Homo sapiens: one gene and its partners. The protein of the gene in region 1 purifies or fractionates together with the protein of each later gene. This does not show direct contact. Each region holds a gene or a part of one and is shown in the gene's direction. Other genes may lie near its edges. The genes, in order: MTHFD2, MCCC1, ACADL, SCFD1, MACROD1 and PREP.

What was found.
Region 2: the proteins of MTHFD2 (region 1) and MCCC1 fractionate together in Homo sapiens (co-fractionation; one large-scale study listed by BioGRID). This does not show direct contact.
Region 3: the proteins of MTHFD2 (region 1) and ACADL purify together in Homo sapiens (affinity purification with mass spectrometry; 2 studies listed by BioGRID and IntAct, with this or other methods). This does not show direct contact.
Region 4: the proteins of MTHFD2 (region 1) and SCFD1 fractionate together in Homo sapiens (co-fractionation; one large-scale study listed by BioGRID). This does not show direct contact.
Region 5: the proteins of MTHFD2 (region 1) and MACROD1 purify together in Homo sapiens (affinity purification with mass spectrometry; one large-scale study listed by BioGRID and IntAct). This does not show direct contact.
Region 6: the proteins of MTHFD2 (region 1) and PREP fractionate together in Homo sapiens (co-fractionation; one large-scale study listed by BioGRID). This does not show direct contact.

What each region holds. Positions count from the first base shown.
Region 1 is NC_000002.12:74,208,615-74,212,114, forward strand, and holds part of MTHFD2 (bifunctional methylenetetrahydrofolate dehydrogenase/cyclohydrolase, mitochondrial isoform A precursor), read left to right. Parts: coding exon 1-107; intron 108-1,327; coding exon 1,328-1,435; intron 1,436-2,584; coding exon 2,585-2,677; intron 2,678-3,126; coding exon 3,127-3,252; intron 3,253-3,500. UniProt on the Homo sapiens protein: Although its dehydrogenase activity is NAD-specific, it can also utilize NADP at a reduced efficiency.
Region 2 is NC_000003.12:183,092,997-183,096,496, reverse strand, and holds part of MCCC1 (methylcrotonoyl-CoA carboxylase subunit alpha, mitochondrial isoform 1 precursor), read left to right. Parts: intron 1-1,888; exon of another isoform or gene 1,889-1,891; coding exon 1,892-1,938; intron 1,939-3,500.
Region 3 is NC_000002.12:210,190,948-210,194,447, reverse strand, and holds part of ACADL (long-chain specific acyl-CoA dehydrogenase, mitochondrial precursor), read left to right. Parts: intron 1-1,557; coding exon 1,558-1,644; intron 1,645-3,500. UniProt on the Homo sapiens protein: Long-chain specific acyl-CoA dehydrogenase is one of the acyl-CoA dehydrogenases that catalyze the first step of mitochondrial fatty acid beta-oxidation, an aerobic process breaking down fatty acids into acetyl-CoA and allowing the production of energy from fats.
Region 4 is NC_000014.9:30,670,819-30,674,318, forward strand, and holds part of SCFD1 (sec1 family domain-containing protein 1), read left to right. Parts: intron 1-2,438; coding exon 2,439-2,529; intron 2,530-3,105; coding exon 3,106-3,179; intron 3,180-3,500. UniProt on the Homo sapiens protein: Plays a role in SNARE-pin assembly and Golgi-to-ER retrograde transport via its interaction with COG4. Involved in vesicular transport between the endoplasmic reticulum and the Golgi.
Region 5 is NC_000011.10:64,009,114-64,012,613, reverse strand, and holds part of MACROD1 (ADP-ribose glycohydrolase MACROD1), read left to right. Parts: intron 1-3,500. UniProt on the Homo sapiens protein: Removes ADP-ribose from aspartate and glutamate residues in proteins bearing a single ADP-ribose moiety. Inactive towards proteins bearing poly-ADP-ribose.
Region 6 is NC_000006.12:105,372,083-105,375,582, reverse strand, and holds part of PREP (prolyl endopeptidase), read left to right. Parts: intron 1-2,004; coding exon 2,005-2,214; intron 2,215-3,500. UniProt on the Homo sapiens protein: Cleaves peptide bonds on the C-terminal side of prolyl residues within peptides that are up to approximately 30 amino acids long.

The sequences.
Region 1 (3,500 bases):
GGATGTTGATGGCTTTCATGTAATTAATGTAGGACGAATGTGTTTGGATCAGTATTCCATGTTACCGGCTACTCCATGGGGTGTGTGGGAAATAATCAAGCGAACTGGTAGGTATATCCCAGAATTGCATGTCTGTGTTAATATTATAAAAGTAGTACTGGCAAATGGTAAAAACTCATACAGTCCCAAAGAGTGGAAACCCTACTGCATATCCTCTAGTCTTACTCCCCAAAGTTTACCTCTCTTAACAGTTTTTTTTTTGTTTTTTGTTTTTTTTGAGACAGGGTCTTGCTCTGTCACCCAGGCTGGAGTGCAGTGGCGCGATCTTGGCTCACTGCAGCCTCTGCCTCCTGAGTTCAAGCGATTCTCATGCCTCAGCCTCCTGAGTAGCTGGGATTACAGGCACGTGCCACCATGCCCAGCTAATTTTTTTATTTCTAGTAGAGACAGGTTTCACCATATTGACCAAGCTGGTCTCGAACTAGGCCTCAGGTGATCCGCCCCCTCAGCCTCCCAGAGTGCTGGGATTATAGGCATGAGCCATCGTGCCTGCCCTTAACAGTTGCCTATGACAGTTTTTGCTTTTTAATCCAGAAGTCTCAGTGAAGGAAATTTTCTATTTTTCTTTTTCTTTTTTTTTGTTTTTGAGACGGAGTCTTGCTCTGTTGCCCAGGCTGGAGTGCAGTGGCGTGATCTCGACTCACTGCAAGCTCCACCTCCTGAGTTCATGCCATTCTCCTGCCTCAGCCTCCTGAGTAGCTGGGACTACAGGTGCCCACCACCATGCCTGGCTAACTTTTTTTTTTTCTCGTATTTTTAGTACAGACGGGGTTTCACCGTGTTAGCCAGGATGGTCTTGATCTCCTGACCTTGTGATCCACCTGCCTTGGCCTCCCAAAGTGCTGGGATTACAGGTGTGAGCCATCGCGCGTGGCCTCTATTTTTCTTTTTAATTTTTTCTTTAAGAGTCAGAGGTTTCATCATGCTGCCCAGGCTGGTCTCAAACTCCTGGCCTCAAGCAATTCTCCTACCTTAGCCTCCCTGGCCTCAAGCAATCCTCCCTCCTGCTGGGATTACAGGTGTGAGCCACCGCCCCAGCCCTCAGTGAAGGAAATTTAAGATTTGATAGTGGTGACAGTGCACATTCCTGTAACATTTTGTAGCCTGTAGTATGCTTTCTCCTGTTTTCTTTTAGCCCTTATTATGTGTAGCAAGTTACAGCTCCAGTTGACTGATGAGGCAAAATTGGGTTCATGTTCTAGGCCATCTGACTTTGTTTTCCTTTGGACTGGCACTACTTTTAATGTCAATACATATATTTTTATAGGCATTCCAACCCTAGGGAAGAATGTGGTTGTGGCTGGAAGGTCAAAAAACGTTGGAATGCCCATTGCAATGTTACTGCACACAGATGGGGCGCATGAACGTCCCGGAGGTAAGGAAATTGCTTTCAGGGAACACTGTCCTTTTTTCCCCATGTAAGAACTTTCAGAAGCCATCCTGTGCATGTTTGGAAGTATTAACTCTGTTATACTTTGTATTTGTTGAAATTTTGTTAACAGACAATTCAGGGAGTAACCTTTGTAGAGAAGCTGCACCCAGTGTCACCTGAGTTTCTTTATTATTCATTTATCATGTAACTAGCTTCAGAAATAAATTTAAGTTTTGAGTATAAGCATGGTTGTAGGCAATTAGAAAATTTCAGCTATAGCTTTGATAGCTGGAGCTAAGGAGCAATTCTTATTCAAAGATACTGTGTCATTTAGTGGAAAAAAATCTTTAGCCGTTGCAAAGGATTGGATTGGTATGACTGTAATGTGTCCTGTCAGGTTCTGTTAATTGGTTCTAAGGTAAAGCCTCGTCAATCAGTTATCACATAATTATTGTAATAATGACCTTACATGATTATATCAGAAATAAAGGCAAAACTATATACTTTCAACTATCTTTCAACATACTTAAAACAACCTTGAGTAATTTTAGTGATATTTTGCTTAGAAAAGGTAAAATTCTTGAAAGGCTTTAAAAATAGGATGAATAAATTTAATTATATGACTCAAAACAGTCGAGCTGGGACCAATGGGTTAAAGCTATATGATATTAGGTATTAATTTTAAAAAAGTAAATGACAATTAGCTGTTCAGAAAACATGGCACAAGCCATTAAGTCAGTTTTTTTTTTTTTTTTTCCTGGAGATGGAGTCTTGCCCTGTTGCCCAGGCTAGTGCAGTGGCACAATCTTGGCTCACTGCAACCTCCACCTTCCAGGTTCAAGTGATTCTCATGCCTCAGCCTCCCAAGTAGCTGGGATTACAGGCATGCGCCACCACGCCCAGCTAATTTTTGTATTTTTAGTAGAGACGGGGTTTCACCATGTTGGCCAGGTTGGCCTCGAACTCCTGACCTGGTGATCTGCCCACCTCGGCCTCCCAAAGTGCTGGGATTACAGGCGTGAGCCACTGCACCTGGCCGTAAGTCAATTATTTTTCAGAGATGTTGAGTTTCTACAATGACTTGACTAGTTGAGACCTAATCCAATCCCAGCTTTGTGTCAGAAATCAAGACATCTATTTTTTTCTTTCTAGGTGATGCCACTGTTACAATATCTCATCGATATACTCCCAAAGAGCAGTTGAAGAAACATACAATTCTTGCAGATATTGTAATATCTGCTGCAGGTAAGAACACAAGGGGGATGGAGGGAAGGACTTCACCTCAGAAGAGGAGGTTGTACCCCTCATCTTAGAATTCGCCTGCCTAGCTGCTATTCATCATTCCCCTTGTAATGATTCTTTGAGCTGCCTACAAAGATGAGGATAGAGTTGTGATTGGAATACCGGTTTCTGGCAGTCCATTATAGTCTAGATGGGTGAATGTTATTCCTAAAGCTTCAAAATATTTATATTAATATTTACTGTATAAAGTTTAAATGGTTCCTTTTGTTTCCTGTCAGGAGCCAAAATAAAAAAATAATAAAAGTAAATAGTTCCTTAGTTAATATTTTTAACAGGTTTTAATAAAACATGTTGATTAGTTCTTCAGGGTCTCTTGAAATTGAAGTTAGACAAGAATCTGACAGGTAGACTGTTTTCAGTACTAAGTTGATCTTTCCTTTCTCCATTTCCAGGTATTCCAAATCTGATCACAGCAGATATGATCAAGGAAGGAGCAGCAGTCATTGATGTGGGAATAAATAGAGTTCACGATCCTGTAACTGCCAAACCCAAGTTGGTTGGAGATGTGGATTTTGAAGGTAAATGGTGAAATTTTATTTTTAAAAATGAAATCAATAAATACTACCTTTCATGGACATTTAGGATAGATTATTTACTTTTTTTTTTTTTTTTTTTTTTGAGATGGGAGTCTCACTCTGTTGCCCAGGCTGGAGTGCAGTGGCGCGATCTCGGCTCACTGCAACCTCTGCCTCCTGGGTTCAAGCTATTCTTCTGCCTCAGCCTCCCGAGTAGCTGGGACTCCCAAAGTGTTGGGATTATAGGTGTG
Region 2 (3,500 bases), on another chromosome or scaffold:
CGCTGTGCTTTTATCTTGTGCTTTGTGAATAATCTAAAATGGTTAGTTAGTCCTTTATAACCACATCTTCCAGGTATAGACAAAAAGATAGGTGGAATTGCTTCTGTAATTTGTTTGTTTCCCTGCATATGCTTTTTATTTATTTATTTATTTTTTTTTTTGAGATGGAGTCTCACTCTGTCACCCAGGCTGGAATGTAGTGGCACGATCTTGGCTCACTGCAACCTCCACCTCCCAAGTTCAAGTGATACTCCTGCCTCAGCCTCCCAAGTAGCTGAGATTACAGGTGCGCACCACCACACCTGGCTAATTTTTGTATTGTTAGTAGAGATGGGGTTTCACCATGTTGGCCAGGCTGGTCTCGAACTCCTGACCTCAGGTAATCCCCCCACCTCAGCCTCTCAAATTGCTAGGATTACAGGCGTGAGCCACTGCACCCAGCCCACTTATCCTCTTTAGCTGAAACTTAATAGACGTTATACTTTTTTGTTCCTAAAGTGAATCTGGCCTGTTTTCTGTCAGCTCTTGGTTACTTTATTTTATACACAGGTATCACGAAACTTAAAAATTGTTGAGACTTCTACCTCATTAAAATACCTCAAGTCATTTTGTCTCCCCATTTCTCCATTTTTTTAAATACAAGGACTTGGAATAGAATTGTATAGTACTTTTAAATCTGAGAGGTACCTTCAAGATCACCTCTTATAGTCTCATCTCGTGTGTGAGAACACTGAAGCCCAAGCTATTAAATCTTGCATCCTCAACTGGGATGATACCACCGCTAAAGGGTGGAAATTGATTCTTAGGAGAGCCAGGAAATCTTAGATTTTGTCATGGTTTACGGCTTTCCAAAGCTCAACCTTACCCCACCCTTCCTACAAGGAATAAAATCTTTTAAAAGTTTTCTCATTAGGAGAGTAATAATGAAAAAAAAGTTGGAGAAACACTGATGTAAAGTGACTCGACCCTGGGCAAGCTGGTCATTGGAGGGACTCGGATGAGAATGCAGCTTTTCTGGTCCCACAGCCAACATTCTTTCTGTTGCCCCTGTTTAACTTCCGTTTATTTCTCTGGTCTTACTTTTTAAACATGTCTCATGTTTAAACTTGATTGGTATTTTTCAAACTGTAGATTGACCAGCATATTTTAATAAAATAGGATACAACTGAAAGAACCAAAAGAGTTTTGTTCTTTTTGTTTTTGTTTTTTTTTTTGAGACGGAGTCTCGCTCTGTCACCCAGGCTGGAGTGCAGTGGCCCAGTCTCGGCTCACTGCAAGCTCTGCCTCCTGGGTTCACGCCATTCTCCTGCCTCAGCCTCCCGAGTAGCTGGGACTACAGGTGCCCGCCATGACGCCCGGCTAATTTTTTGTGTTTTCAGTAGAGACAGGGTTTCACCGTGTTAGCCAGGATGGCCTCAATCTCCTGACCTCATGATCTGCTTGCCTCGGCTTCCCAAAGTGCTGGGATTACAGGTGTGAGCCACCGTGCCTGGCCAGGGCAGAATGAGTCATTTTTAACAAAACATCTGTTTTCATTAAGTGTGTGTCCTGGGTAGTTTGTATTGTGAGTTGTAGCCAAAAAGGTTTCAAAAAAGCTAAACTAGATGATGTTGGTATACCTTGGTTGTTTAATCATCTCTGACTGTGGTCTTATGCCAGCCTCAGGAACAAGCAGGCTAGGTGACTCATTCAAGGACAGGTAGTACGAGGGAAAACAGCCAGAACTCTAACTCTTGAGTTCTAGATTAGTTTTCTACCCACTAAGAAAGTCTTACTAAAGCACTGTTAGTTGGCTTAAGGTTTCATGTTTTAAGAAACTGAAATTCTTTTGAAAGAACAATTGTGTTGCCTATTCTGTTTAATTGTAATTCCTTTTGGATTTATGTTATAGGACATGGGTGTGGAGGCAAAGAACCATGAAGTACACAACAGCCACAGGTACTGACAGACTTTGTTGTTCTATTTGATTTTGCTTCAGACTGGAAGTGTTTAAGAAAGGGAAATGTTTAATCCCTTAATATATGCATAATAGAATTAGTTATCATAAATTTTGGATTTTCACGATAATTTTCTAGGAAGTGTTAAGTCATGGTTTTCACCTCTTTTGTATCAAATCTCTCTTGCTGTTAAGTCTAAAATACAGAGGGCAGCCGGGCGCAGTGGCTCATGCCTGTATCCCAGCACTTTGGGAGGCTGAGGTGGGTGGATCACCTGAGGTCAGGAGTTCGAGACCAGCCTGGACAACATGGCAAAACCCTGTGTCTACTAAAAAATACAAAAATTAGCTGGGCGTGGTGGCGGGTGCCTGTAATCCCAGATGCTTGGGAGGCTGAGGCAGGAGAATTGCTTGAACCCAGGAGGCGCAGGTTGCAATGAGCCAAGATCTCGCCACTGCACTCCAGCCTGGGCGACAGAGCAAGACTTCGTCTCAAAAAAAAAAAAAAAAAAGTAAAAATAAATAAATAAAATACAGAGGGCAATAATGGAGAACATTTTATATTCGTTTGTTCTTTCTGTCCATTTGACCCTCTTAGTGTATTGGATTGGAAAATCATAACTACGATGGTCTAAAGCAGTTCTTTGAAAAAGCTATTTTAAGTAGCAAAACCTTTTTTTCCAAATAAAATTTAACATGGAATTCCCAACTATGAAACATATAAAAGTGTAATAAAGTATAACTTCTAGCTGATTGGATATAGCCCTCTACCTACTGTGCTCTCCTTCCCCTGCCCACACTCATACATATGTCATCCATCAGCCCCTGTGACAACTCTTGGGCTCCATAGAGCCCCATCGAAAAACACTTTTAAATTAGGTGCAACCTTTTTTTTTTTAAAAGGAGAAATAACTTTATTATGTTGAGCCTATGGATTCTATTGAAGAAATAACTTTATTATGAACTGTCAAAGAACATTTATTTCACGTGTGATATTAGAAGTACATTTTATATATGCAGTAGCTTGTCATTATGGTGCCATGCCAGTAGACTGGTACAAGAGTCACTTGTGTTGCAAGAGAACCACACACACCTATGTACATAGGGATAGAGGCAGAGGAGCAGAGTGACTGAAAGCTTAAATTCTGGAGTGACGCAGATCTAGGTTGAAGTCCCAGATTGTTTCTTTAGCTGTGTAATTTTGGGAAAATAATAGCTCTTTCAGCATTAGTTTCTTCATCTTTAAAATTGAGATAACAATGATAGTATCTATTTCATTAGGATTATTGTGAAAATTTAAGTCGATGTTGAGTCTTTAGCACAGGACCTGAGGCACAGAAAGTGCTTATTAAAGATTAGTTAGTATTGGCCGGGTGTGGTGGCTCACACCTGTAATCCCAGCACTTCGGGAGGCCAAGGCAGGTGGATCACCTGAGGTCAGGAGTTCGAGACCAGCCTGGCCAATGTGGTGAAACCCCGTCTCTACTAAAAATACAAAAATTAGCCAGGCGTGGTGGCAGGCACCTGTAATTTCAGCTACTCAGGAGGCTGAAGCAGTAGAATT
Region 3 (3,500 bases), about 140 Mb from region 1:
GTTTCCTCTTTTTAAAAACAAACATTCTCCCATATCATTAGCCCAAGAGTAACTTAGAATAAATTCCTGTCATTATTCATTAACTTGTGTTCAGTTCAATCACAGGTAGAACAGGGGAAATATTTTGTGCTTTATATAATGATCCCATAATAACAAAATTGCCAGGTTGAAAAATAATGTGGAATTACTTTTCAGAAACTTGCACTTTTGAGGAGACTTTTTATATTTACATTTACAAGAAGTTCTTTGACTAGTGGCAAAAAGTGTAAAAAAAATTTACATATTTTTGGAAAAAGAGAAGTTTGGATAGCCATTGACCTTGTTATTTGAAAACCTCAGGTTTATACACATGCTCATATTTCACACTGAAACACAGGAGGCAACTAGTTATAGCCCAGTAAATATTTCACTAAAATACTTGCCAAATATAAAAAATTAGAGAAATCCAAATATTATTGTCCCCAAAGTCTTGTCTATTAATAATTATATTGTTAATATATTGCTTAGAAATATCCTCACCTGTCGTATGGTCTGAGTTTTAAATTATTTTAAATAAAAAGAAGTATCTACCCTTATTTTTGCTTTATGCTTCCCACTATTGAAAAATAAGTAGTGGGGTGCTGTAGCTTGCCACTGTAGTAACTCCTACTTGAGAAGCTGAGGTGAGAGGATCCTTTGAGCCCTGGAGTTCAAGACTGTAATGAGCTATGATTGTGCCACTGTATCCCAACCTAGGCCCTAGAGTGGGTGAGACTCCATCACTAAAACAGACTCACAAACAAAAAGAAAGAAAGAAAAGAAAAATAAGTAGAAAAGAATTTTGAACTAATGTATTTTTATGTTAAGGTGAATAAAATCTCTATCATGAATTTTAATGATAGAATTGTGATATTATCAGAAAAGAATTTTTCTCAAGCACTGCATGTTTATGTATACAAACATTATATATAATACTAATACATACACTTCAGGAATAATAATCTCTATATAATTTTCTAATGTTTCCTATATGATAGCATATACTTTGTTAGTCTGCCCTCTTAGGTTTTCACTTTTATCTTCAATTTATTTCTGAAAAGTCAGAACCCTAAAAAATTGCTTTTTTATACTGAAATTCAGAATCGTGATCTTCAAGTAGAAAGTGACATCATTGGAGAAAAAATGCATATTACAAGGGCAAAAAGAACTAGGTGGCTGAGTAATTTAGATCATATAGAGAATCCAAATAAATTAGAACATATTCAAGTCTTTACTGCATGTTTTTCTAGCCTCAAATAGCCAAAATCTAATCATCTGAGTTTTCTACCTTTTGTTTCTAGCCTAACAAAAACCTAGCAAGAAATATAATTAATGAAAAAGGTACTCTTATATGAAAATTCTCTTGAAATATATTTCATATGTAATTTTTATCTTCTTTGCTTAGCTAATATGCCGTTCTAATTGCTTAATAAATGTGCACATTTAAACAATTGTAAATAATTAGTTTTCTGGTTTTGAAGCACCTCATGAAAATCCATTTCAAACATTTCTTTTCTGCCTTTTATTTTGGTCATTTAGGGCATCTGAGTTACAAAATAGTGTAGCTTACGACTGTGTACAGCTCCATGGAGGTTGGGGATACATGTGGGAGTACCCAATTGCAAAGTAAGTATAGTTTTCTGATACACTCTTCTTTATGATGTGAAGAAAAAGGAAAATTTCTTTACTTTGTACATCAAATGTAGAGGGAAAGGAGGTGTGCAATCTTTTGAATTTTTCAGCTGAATACAGACAAAATGTATTCAAGCAAATGGAAACAGCTTTTTTTTTATCAACTCCCTACTAGGATTTTATTTTTCTTAAATAAAGTAAAGAGACCAATAAACAAAAGCTTGATCCTTGGCTTTATTTGAATCCTTATGTAGAAGGACAAATAGTATTTTCAAAAATTTTTTAATTTTTTTATTTTTTATTTTATTTTGAGACAGTCTCGCTCTGTCACCCAGGTTGGAGTACAGTGGCATGATCTGGGTTCACTGCAACCTCCACCTTCCAGGTTCAAATAATTCTTGTGCCTCAGTCTCCAGAGTAGCTGGAATTAACAGGTGCGTGCCATGACACCTGGCTAATTTTTTTGTATTTTTAGTAGAGGTGTGGTTTTGCCATGTTGGCCAGGCTGGTCTCAAACCCCTGGCCTCAAGTGATCTGCCTGCCTTGGCATCCCAAAGTACTGGGATTACAGGCGTGAGCCACTGCATCCGGCCAAATACTACTTTTTTTTTAAAACCAAAAAAAAAAAAAAGCAATACAGAAAAATTAACTGGCATATGAAAAGGATCTAAGTTGTCACATATCTTAAATATCTGATTATTTGTTTTGTTCTAAAAAAATTAAAAATCTTCTTTCTAAATAGATTTATTTCCTTCAAATTGAAAGAAATCAAATATATCTTTTTATCATATATGAATATTCTTATCAGTTTGAAGCAGTACTAATTTGTAAATAGGCAGTGTCCCCATTCATATTTCTTCCTCAATCTCCAGAATTTCCTTTTCTCCTAACAGTCTTTTGCCTCAGAAGTCTCCCCATAGCTTTTTTTCCTCATCACCCTAGAAAATATATTTTTCTGATTATTTAGCAATGATTTTGGTTTAGAAAATTTTCCCAAGGAAATTTTTTATTTATACAGAAAAGTTCAGTTTGTTCTGAATCTGAGAGTAAGAATGCTATAGGCTTCTAAAAATGTTTTAAGATTATCTTAATATAAAGTATCTAAAGGGAAAAATTATGAAACCTACATTCAAACTGGCAGCCTAATGATTTCAAATTTATCTTTTTGGTAAGTATAATTGGAAACATTTAATATGCTTATAGTCCTTAGAAAAAATATTTTACTAAAATTACATTAAGAACAGAAGCTATGTAGTGGCTCAATGTTTGTGTGGTTTAGTTCACATTTAAGAAAGGCCTATTAGGTGGGGAGAAGGCAATCATCTAAATGGCTTAAGATTAGAGCGTGGCATAAGCCTTGGTCTCTGTTTTCTCGGAGTCAACTCCTTCAAGTTGGTACCAAGCAAACAATGTAGATTGATGGCTTATTTGAAATCTCTGGTTTCAGTTTGAGAGACTTATATTCTCTTTAAGAAACAATAATCACCTTTCTTGGCCAGTTTGTTAGTTCAAAGATTGTATCAATTTTTAAACTAGACTGCTATTTCTCTTCCCATATATCGCCTAATATCAAAAAAGCCACTGAGGCCACGTGCGGTGGCTCACTCCTGTAATCCCAGCACTTTGGGATGCCAAAGCGGGTGGATCACCTGAGGTCAAGAGTTCAAGACCAGCCTGGGCAAAATGGCGAAACACCATTTCTACTAAAAATACAAAAAAATTAGCTAGGCGTGGTTGCAGGTGCCTGTAGTCCCAGCTACTCCAGAGGCATGAGAATCGCTCTAACCCGAGAGGCGGAGGTTGCAGTGAGTCGAGATTGCGCCACTGCACTCCAGCCTGGGCGACAGAGT
Region 4 (3,500 bases), on another chromosome or scaffold:
AAATTTATTCAAAGTACATTAGAAATAATGAGTGATAAAACTGCATTAATTTGCCATGTGATTTACTGTGGGCAGATATACATATCCCATGTGATGCTATGCCCCCTTAAAGTTTAGGGTACTTCATGGGCTCAGTTACTGCTATAAAAGTTATCTAGTGATCATTATGGCTAGAGCCATCATTCTAAACAAACAAAAATATTATTCCTCAGAGAAAAAGAATACTGTTCATCAACAATTATGAAAATATGATTTTTAAAAAATATTTCAAAATGTGTGTGTGTCCTTGATATAGCTGTTCTTTTTGGGCTTATATTTATTGTTTAAAGAGAAGTCGAATATAGACTTGGTTCAACATGCTGGGTTTTTAATATGCTTTATCTTTTTTTTACTTACAACTTTTTTTTAAGCTGGAAAATCAAATCGCCATAACAAAGATTTGACTTTCTCTGCAGAGAAAAGTCACTGTCTTTCTCTTTCTCACTATGGCAGTTTTAGGTACTATTTTAATTAATTTTAATAAATTTGATTTTAAATAATACTCTTCCCTTTGGAATTCCATAATCTACGTTTCCCTCCAGAATGGTGAAGTACAAGAAATTACTTTTATTAGAGAGGCATTATTTATAGAGAATACAGAATATTTTGAAGTTGGCATTCCCTAATAGAGAAAAGCTTAAGAAAAAAATCTCTGTATTCAAATATGGAAATTTTGAATTTTTTTAGAACATATGTTTAAGAACAATTTAAGAGGTCAGTTGAATAGTAAGAATTTTAACCTCCTATTCATTAAGTAGGAATAGCTCTTTTGCTCTGCATCTTACATACAATAGTAACATGGGCACAAAGACACTTGGAGATAGCATAAACAAGTGACCTAAACCTCTCTGAGCTTCAGTTTCCTCATCAGTAAAATAGGGAGATAATAATTCTACCTATTGCCCTATTTCAGAAGGTTGTTGAGAAGATTGAGATAATGAATTTAAAGGAGTAATTTGCCCAAGTCATCCAGCTTTCGTTGGTAAAGCCAGGGATGAAACCCAGGTCTTGCAGACCATAAAGCACCCAGTCTTAACATTGAATAGTTAAGTTATGATAGTTACCTCAACAGATTCATCAGGATTAAATGAGGTTGCAGTGAGCCGAGATCACGCCATTGCACTCCAGCCTGGGCAACAAGAGCAAAACTCCATCTTAAAAAAAAAAAAAAGAAAGAAAAGATAAATTCTTAGCATGGTGTTTGATGTATAGTAAAATCACTTAATAAATGTGAGCAATTATTCTCTGTTAACTCTGAGACCTAAAGATATCAGAGATTTTGAGGATTATCCAGTTCAACCCACACATTTTACAGATAAAGCTAGGGCCCTGAGAGGGTAAGAGCTTGCCTGTAAAGGAAGTTTCCATTATAATTAGATGGAACAAGGGTTTCTGACTCCCCAGTGCAATGCTGAGGCCTCAGTGCTATTTTTTGCCAACATAGACTCAACTGGAGCTGGAGTAAATGCCTGTGCTTGTGAGGTAAAATTGGACTGTGTTCCTCAGAATCCTTTCTGAGCTCCTGTCTTTTCTGCTAGTCTCCATTGGATAAAATGTGCTTGTTATTAGAGAGGTATTTTCAGATGTCAGAGCTGAGGAAGGGGGGAAAGGTTTTTGTTCACTGTTAATGAGACATGACCTTTTCTTTCTTAAAGGAGAAAAGGCTTCTGGCCTCCCCCTAGGCTGTAGATGAAAAATACTCATTTTAAGAAACATTTAATGATCAACATGTATTCACCTAGAGTTTGTCAAGATTAGTACAGTGTTTTCTACCTGAGTGCTCATGATTGCAGATCACTTCTGCCTAAAGTCTATGTAAGTTACTGCTAAACCACAATGTCCTGGTAGAAGACATCAGGTATTAGGCCACCAAAACTGTGGCCCAAGTGCTATTTTTACCAGTAGTGTTCTGGGATATTATGAGTTCTGAGTTACAAGAATTTTTTCACAGTTACTTGCAGGTGATATTTTTAAATGCTGTCTTTGTAGTTGCATGGACCCTTTGACATGACGTGTTAATTTGGATGGGAATATTTAATTGATATTTGATATAACATGACTTGTCTTCCATTGATTTTCAGTCATGTAAATATTTTACTTTTTCTTCTAAAAACGTATAAGTGAAGAGAATGTATGATACTGTTAATGAAAAATAGAAATGAAATTTAAATTTTAGATGTATATTATATGCATTTTAAAGAAATAGTATTATATAGATATCAGAAAGATATGTAGTTGTATTTGTGCTGAATCTTTTCTGCCTTTGTTATATATAACATATATTCAAATCCAAATAAGTATATTTAAAATAATAAATGTTCATTGTATATATTTTAGAATTTACACAAAAATTGGTCTTTTAATGTCATCCTCATAGTTCTTGTGCAATACTGTTTTAGTCCATTCCCAGAAGTTGCAGAATCAGTTCAGCAAGAACTAGAATCTTACAGAGCACAGGAAGATGAGGTCAAACGACTTAAAAGCATTATGGTAAGATTCTATTTGCTTTCTAAGAATTATAGGAAAGAGGAGGATTATCTGTTAGATAAAGAGATTTGGGTTTTTTTCCTTATAAAAATTGAAGGCCATTTAATGCTTTTATAACAAAAATATTTTCAACTTGCGTAAGTGATCAAAAAGAAATCTAAATATTGAGAAGAGAAAAAATAATATATGATTTGAAAAAATATATAATGTAGCATCATTTTAGAGATGTATGTTCCAATGCTGCTCATTCTACCATACTTCGATGTAACTTCAGATTTCAGCTCTACTGTTTATTGCTGTGTGACCTATGGCACGTCTCTGGGCCTGTCTCCTTATCCAAAAATGCCAGCTGATCATTTAGACATCTAACCATTAGACTGGCGATTACTAGAACTTTTATGTAACATTAAAATATATATGCTTGCACCTCAGAGGAGGAGAATTACTATTCTAGGTGACTTAAAAATCTTACGGTATATCAATAATCTTAGGATATTTGCTCCAATCTTAGGATGTGTTGATTTTTATGCTTGTGCCTGGGATTTTTGAGTAGCTATTGAGACCTTTTTTCTTTACAAGGGACTAGAAGGGGAAGATGAAGGAGCCATAAGTATGCTTTCTGACAATACCGCTAAGCTAACATCAGCTGTTAGGTAAGTGAGCAGTATATCCTCTTTGAAGTCTTTCTGTTGATAGGATTTTTTTTTTATTTAACTAAAAAATTGTTAATGTTTTTAACTAGTAGGAAACTGTAGGCAATAGCAAATATAACTTTGAATTTAAAGAACTAAATTGTATTTAGCTAAATGTTTAAGCCGATTTTAGTTCCCTCTTAGATATAGGAGATTATTCATTCTTTCACCAGTTAGAACTGTGTAATAGGGGTAATTTTATGAGGAAAATACTATTAATGATAAAGTAGGGCAAGCGATTATTAATTTTATTATAGATACTGTTTTCTTAACTAAAAGTTA
Region 5 (3,500 bases), on another chromosome or scaffold:
GCCTAGCCAACATGGTGAAGCCCCGTCTCTACTAAAAATACAAAAATTAGCTGGGCATGGTGGTACACACCTGTAATCCCAGCTACTCAGAAGGCTGAGGCAGGAGAATTGCTTGAACCCCATAGGCAGGGGCTGCAGTGAGCCAAGATCACACCACTGCACTCCAGCTTGGGTAACACAGCGAGACCCTGTCTCAAAAAAAAAAAAAGTTTATTGAATGAATGAACTACAGGTAAAGGTGGAGATGACCCTACACATTAAGCAACGGACTTACCCAAGGGCAGCTGGTGGAAACCAAAGATGTTTTGGCAAATCCAGGAGTGGCTCACAGATGGCCTGTGACCTCACTCTAGGAAGTGGAGGGGCCCTGCCCTGGCCACTCAGAGGCATGGCAGAGGTCTCTCTGGTTCTCCTTCCAGCATTTAGGGGTGCGGAGCGGCTGGCACAGGCCTCTCACACAACCTGACTGATGGAGAGATGGACGGGGCGGGTGCCCCTGGAGGAAGTGGGCCCGGAGTCCAACCTTTTAACATGGGCTGAGATTTATGGAGCCGCCGCCAGCACTTGCTGGGACTGTCACTCTGCTAATGTGATTGGAACACAGTGGAGGTGGTGGGGAGGGGGCTGTGGTAGGGACGATGCTGGGGCTGGAATGGAGCCCAGCCTGGTCCCCGGAGGTGCTCTGCCCTCCCCTATACCCCTGCTCCTCCCACCATCCTTTGAGTTCATCCAGTCCTAATCGCCTACCTGCCCAAGTTAGACCCCATCTGACTCTGCCCAGACACACCCATCTTCCCGTGGGGTCCCTGGACATCCCTCCTACAGGAGTTCAGGCCTCTACCCGCGCCCCTCCCATGACCAGCCACCCATTGTTCGAACACGCACAAGGGCCATCCTGCCTGCCCTGGCCACTCTGCCCAGAACCCTGATGCACTGCCCTGCTCCATGTCTTCGTCCCGCAGCCCTGATTCCCTGCTTGCGTTTTGTGTTTGTTCTTCATTGCCTGCCTCCCCACCGGAATGGACTCCCCCGAGGGCAGGGTTATGGGAGATTCTGAGCTCCTAGAAGAGCTTCCTGCTTTGAAGTAAATAATTAACATCTGTGGTGCAGTGAGTGGCACCCTCTGTGTGCCCTGGGAGCCAGGGACACAGCTCTCAGTCTGGCACCCACATCCCATCCCCTCACCCTGGGGACTGCCAGTCTGCCAGTCCCTCAATGGAGAGGGGCAGCAGGCAACACCCTGGCCAACACCCCAATCAGCATCCTAGCCAACAGCCCAACCAACATGCCAGCCAACACCCCAACAACATGCCAGCCAACACCCCAACCAGCATGCCAGCCAACACCCCAAACAATACACCAGCAAACACCCCAACCAACACCCCAACCAACACCCCAGCCAACACGCCAGCCAACACCCCAACAAATACCCCAACCAACATGCCAACCAGCATCCTAACACCCCAACCAACTCGTGCCAACCAATATGCCAGCCAACACCCCAACCAACATGCCAACCAACACCCCAGCCAACACTTCAACACCCCAACCAACATGCCAGCCAACACGCCAGCCAACATCCCAACCAACACCTCAACCAACACACCAGCCAACATCCCAACCAACACCCCAACCAACACATGCCAACCAACATGCCAGCCAACACCCCAACCAACATGCCAGCCAACACCCTGGCCAACACCCCAACCAACATGCCAGCCAACACCCCAAACAATACACCAGCAAACACCCCAACCAACACTCCAGCCAACATGCAAGCCAACACCCCAACCAATACCCCAACCAACATGCCAGCCAACATCCCAAACACCCCAACCAACTCGTGCCAACCAATATGCCAGCCAACACCCCAACCAACATGCCAACCAACACCCCAACCAACATGCCAGCCAACATGCCAGCCAACACCCCAACCAACACACCAGCCAGCACCCCAACTAACACCCCAAACAACACTCCAACCAACACCCCAGCCAACACCTCAAGCAACATGGCAGCCAACACCCCAATCAACATGCCAGCCAACATCCCAACCAACACATGCCAACCAACATGCCAGCCAACGCCCCAACCAACACACCAACCAACACCCCAACCAACACCCCAGCCAACACCCCAACCAACATGCCAGCCAGCACCCCAACCAACACCCCAACATGTCAGCCAACATCTCAACCAACACTCCAGCCAACACCCCGGTCAACACCCCAGCCAACATCCCAGCCAACACTCCAACCAACACTCCAACCAACACCCCAACCAACACCCCAAACAACATACCAGCCAACACTCCAACACCCCAACATGCCAGCCAACACCCCAACCAACATGCCAGCCAGCACCCCAACCAACACCCCAGCTAACACTCTGGGCAACACCCCAACCAATATGCCAACCAACACCCCAGCCAACACACCAACCAACACCCCAGGCAACACTTCAACCAACACCCCAACCAACCCCCCAACCAACACCCCAGCCAACCCCCCAACCAACACCCCAACCAACACCCTGGGCAACACCCCAGCCAACACCCCAGCCAACACCCCAACCAACAACCCAGCCAACACCCCAACCAACACCCCAACCAATACCCCAGGCAACAACCCAACCAACATCCCAGCCAACACCCCGGCCAACACCCTGGTGTGGGTAGTGGCGTGGAGTTCCTGCCAGGAGGGGCCGGCGCAACTGGGGCTCAGAAGATGGGGCTGGGACTGGCCTGCAGGGCTTTGGGGCCCGAGCCCACTGTTTTTACGGCAAATGTGCGGTGATTTAGAGCAGAAGAGGGCTGCAGTCTCAGGGGAGCAGAGAAGGGAGTCTCCCGGGCACCCCCAATGCAGTGAGAGCCCCCAGGGGCTGCTGGGGCTAAAGGGACTTAACCTGGAGGGCACAGGACTCCTGTGCCTGCCTCACTCTGGGCCTGGACCCCCACCCACCACACCCTGGGGCCGAACTAGATGGTGCTGGCAATGCAGTGAGTCCTGGGGAAGTCCCCCTACTCCCTTACTACCCATTCTTCCCTGGAGCTCTCTCTGAGTTGAGGGAGCTATGCCAAATGCTGGGACTCAGGGCTTGGCTCTGCCTTCAGGGAGACCCAGTTTGGTAGGAGGCTTCCCAGCAGAGGGAGCATTTGACTTGGGTCCCGAAGGCTAAATAGGAGTTCTGCAGGTAGAGCAGGATGGACGGGCCCCCCAGGGGGAAGGCCTGTGTCTGCTTCAGGAAGGCTTGATGGGCTTGGGGCAGCTGCCAGCCTTCCCGACAGACCCTTTGGCCTGGTGTCTGCCAGGCCCCCTCCTCTCTCCCACCTCCCTCCTGGAAAGCTTTTACTGGCTCAATAAAAACATTTTTTAAAACACTCTCCTATTGTATGGTAAGAAGGGAGGCAGGTCCTAAATCAGGATGGGAATCGACAGAGCCCTGACGCCCGTGTCTCTCCTGTTTATTAGGACTGAAATGTTTACTCGGAGATAAGGAGC
Region 6 (3,500 bases), on another chromosome or scaffold:
TGGAGGTTTAAAGACTAAGTTTGTCCACAGTTGCTGTACATCTCCTACTTAACTCTGCCCCTAAGATAACCTCCTCCGTAGGCCATAGAGAAGATTATCCAAGGTTTCTGCAGTAAGCAGAGTTCTAGGGTAAGGAACTAAGTTATTCTCCAGTTCTGTATTTTAATAATTGTAAACTCTACAATGATAATGATGTTATAGATGACGTTGGCTCAGCATTTCTCCTGTAGTACCTTCTGGTTTTATAGAAAAAACCATATGATTAGTTATGGCCCTCTAGAATTGAGAAATTGAGACATTGAAGTCCTCTGTAATCAATAAGATGGGAGTTATAGAGCCCCGTTCCATCAGACCTGTGCAAAGACCCTTTTTTATACAAACACTTCTAACCATGATCCAGTCATTCGGTGGTCCACCTTCCCCTCCCTCTGAATAGGCTGTGTATATAAACAATGATCCTTTATCGAACCAGTATCGAAAATAAGACATCACCAGCTCAGATTCTTCCATGAATCTGAGCTTGTAGTTTTCAGTGAATTTAATACACTGGTTCTGTTGAAGTAACATATCCCATATAGGAATTCATTTAGTTTCCACAAGGATCTATCTTGCAGCCCATCCAGAGGGACAGGGTCTTAACTCCCACCCCGATAATGCATTCTTCTAGTGACTTCTTTATGGAATGTTTGCTATGGACAAAGCCTTGATGGGCGAGAAGCTAAATTAGGCATGAGACCTGCCTCAAACAGTCATTGAGTTTTCTAAGAGTGGTATTATAGGGAAGTTATCACAAAAGGAGTAAACATTCAGATTATTTTTGTAGTATATGATTTTTAAACATACTTTTCAAATCAAAATGTTTTATTTAAATTTTTCTGAAAATTTTCTGATATATATATATATATATATATATATATATATATATATATATATATATATATATATATATAAACAATTCAAACACTCCAGTGCTATGTAGAATAAAAGGTGAATATGTTTCTTTTTCCTATCACTTTCTAGACTCTTTTCTGCATTTACATACATATGAGCCTAGATACTTTATAGGACCTACAATGGTTAATGAGTAGGTTCTGTGAAATTTTAAACAAATGAAATTCCACGTAAAAGAATAGGAAACCTCTAATAATAGTTGAGCTTCTTAAAATTTTCATTACCCAATAACGTTTAGCAAACAGCCTAAGAGGAAATCTCTGGTGTCAGAGTCTCCAATAGGAGGTGTTGTATTGAATGCTTTACATACTTCATAATTAAAAAAGCTAATATGAAACACAAGTATTTGCCAGGAAACATTCCATAGTGATTAGAACATTCTGCCAGGGCCCTAAAGGACTGTACATGGCACGACAGTCTATAGACATGTTGCTTTTCCTTTCACAATTTCTTGTGGAATGTGCACTCCGGGCGCCTTCACTGCAAACCCTCAGGCTTTATTTACCTAGGCTTGTAATGGTCAGACAGTGTGGACATTGCACAGGTAATGCTTCAAAAATGAGGCTGTAACAAGGGATTTTAGATAATTTGGAATCAATCTCCCAAATTACCTAATGACTACAATTTAGTTCTATTATATGGTATGTGTCATAATTCAGTCATTACTCTAAAAGCAGTTTCCTTTTTCTCCTTATTCCCTTTAGAGTATAAATGAAATATGACAGAAGTCCCAGATGAGCTCTGCTTTTAACTGAACTGCCTATTGCATTATAAAAATTTCAAAATGAAAGCATTTTAGTAGGCATATAATCTAATATTTCATTTTATAGACAAATTAAGACCTGGAGAGGTTAGGAAGCTTGTCTAAGGTTATAAGGGTAATTCCTGTAAAACTTGGGCTGAGCCCCCGGGATTCCTCACTACCAGATTCCTATTCCTTTTATTGCCACATTCTACCTCCGTGTTATGAAAGAGAGCTTTGTTAGATGGCATAAAGGACCGTGGAGTTGTGTTCCGTGTTTGTCACTGGATGATTTCTCCTGTGTCCCATAGGTTATGCGTTCAGCGAAGATGGTGAATATTTTGCCTATGGTCTGAGTGCCAGTGGCTCAGACTGGGTGACAATCAAGTTCATGAAAGTTGATGGTGCCAAAGAGCTTCCAGATGTGCTTGAAAGAGTCAAGTTCAGCTGTATGGCCTGGACCCATGATGGGAAGGGAATGTTCTACAACTCATACCCTCAACAGGATGGAAAAAGTGATGGTGAGTGAAGACTTCAGATGAAGCACATTTTTCACAAAATGAAGTGTGACTTCAAGTGACTGAAAAGAGATGCTGAACCCTACATAGAGGTTGTGTGGTCCAGAACCATGTTTCCTCAAAGGATGTTGTATCAGTTGGCTTTGCTGTGTAATAGACCCCACCAAAATGTAGTAGCTTAGAATAATAAACATTTGTTTTTGCTATGAGCCTATGGGTTGGCCAGGTAGTTCTTCTGGCCTTGGCTGAGTTCTAACATGTATCTGTGGTCAGCTGCAGGTTAGTTGGTTCATCTTGGCTTGGCTCTTTTACATTTCTGGGCCCTCAGCTGGGACGACTAGCAGACTAGCCTGGGCTTGCTCACATGGCAACTCAGTAGAATTGCAAGACGGGGAGCTGAATGACACAGCCTTCTTAATGCCTAGGCTTGCTCCTGGCACGTCAGATTTGCTGCATTCTGTTGGCTAAAGCAAGCCAGAGGGCCAGCCCCTTTTCAATGGGTGGAGAAATAGATACAGGGAACTGCGGAAAAATGAGATCATTATTACAATCAATCAGTCCCTTATAGATGTGTTATATCTCCTAAGGAGATTATGGAGAAGGTGAATTTTTAAACCGAACCAAGCTATTTGATTATGTTGAGTGATTATAAAACTTTACTGCTACAGTAATCGCATATTCTCCTCTGATCAGAAGTTATAGGTCACCTGTTGGTTGCCATTTATCTTGATACTTTTCTCCTTGTTACTTTCTGGACACACCTTTATTGTTCTTCTCTTTAATTGCACAAAGATCCTGTTGTGTTCAAGGGGTTCCTCCCTCTTTGCTCCTTCACTTCTAAATTTTCCCAGGCAGGAAGGGCTATGTACCTTGTACCTTACTGGTACAATGTGTCATTTTCTTCCTTTTGCTACCCCACATTTCAACGTGGTATGTAGCATTTTCTTGTTATGTTGGTTGGTCTTTACAGGTAAGTTTTACAATCCCTGTGTTAGAGATTAGGAGCTTGGGCACAGAGGCTCAGTAATTTGCTGGAGGGCTGGGATCTGGCAAGAAGCACAGCTACTCCAGTGCTTTCTGCTGTACCTGTTGTCCCCTTATCATGACTTGTTGTATCTTTGTCATCTTTAAATATCCTTGCTTTCTTTTCTGTTTTTTTTTTTCCCCCACAATTGAATTGAGAATAAGGCTACAGTGTTTTTCATCTCTTGGCTATGTTTAGCTTTTTCTGCCTTTTGATTAGGCTACATCAAGACCTTTTTTATAAATTCGCCAATGAATTACAAGAT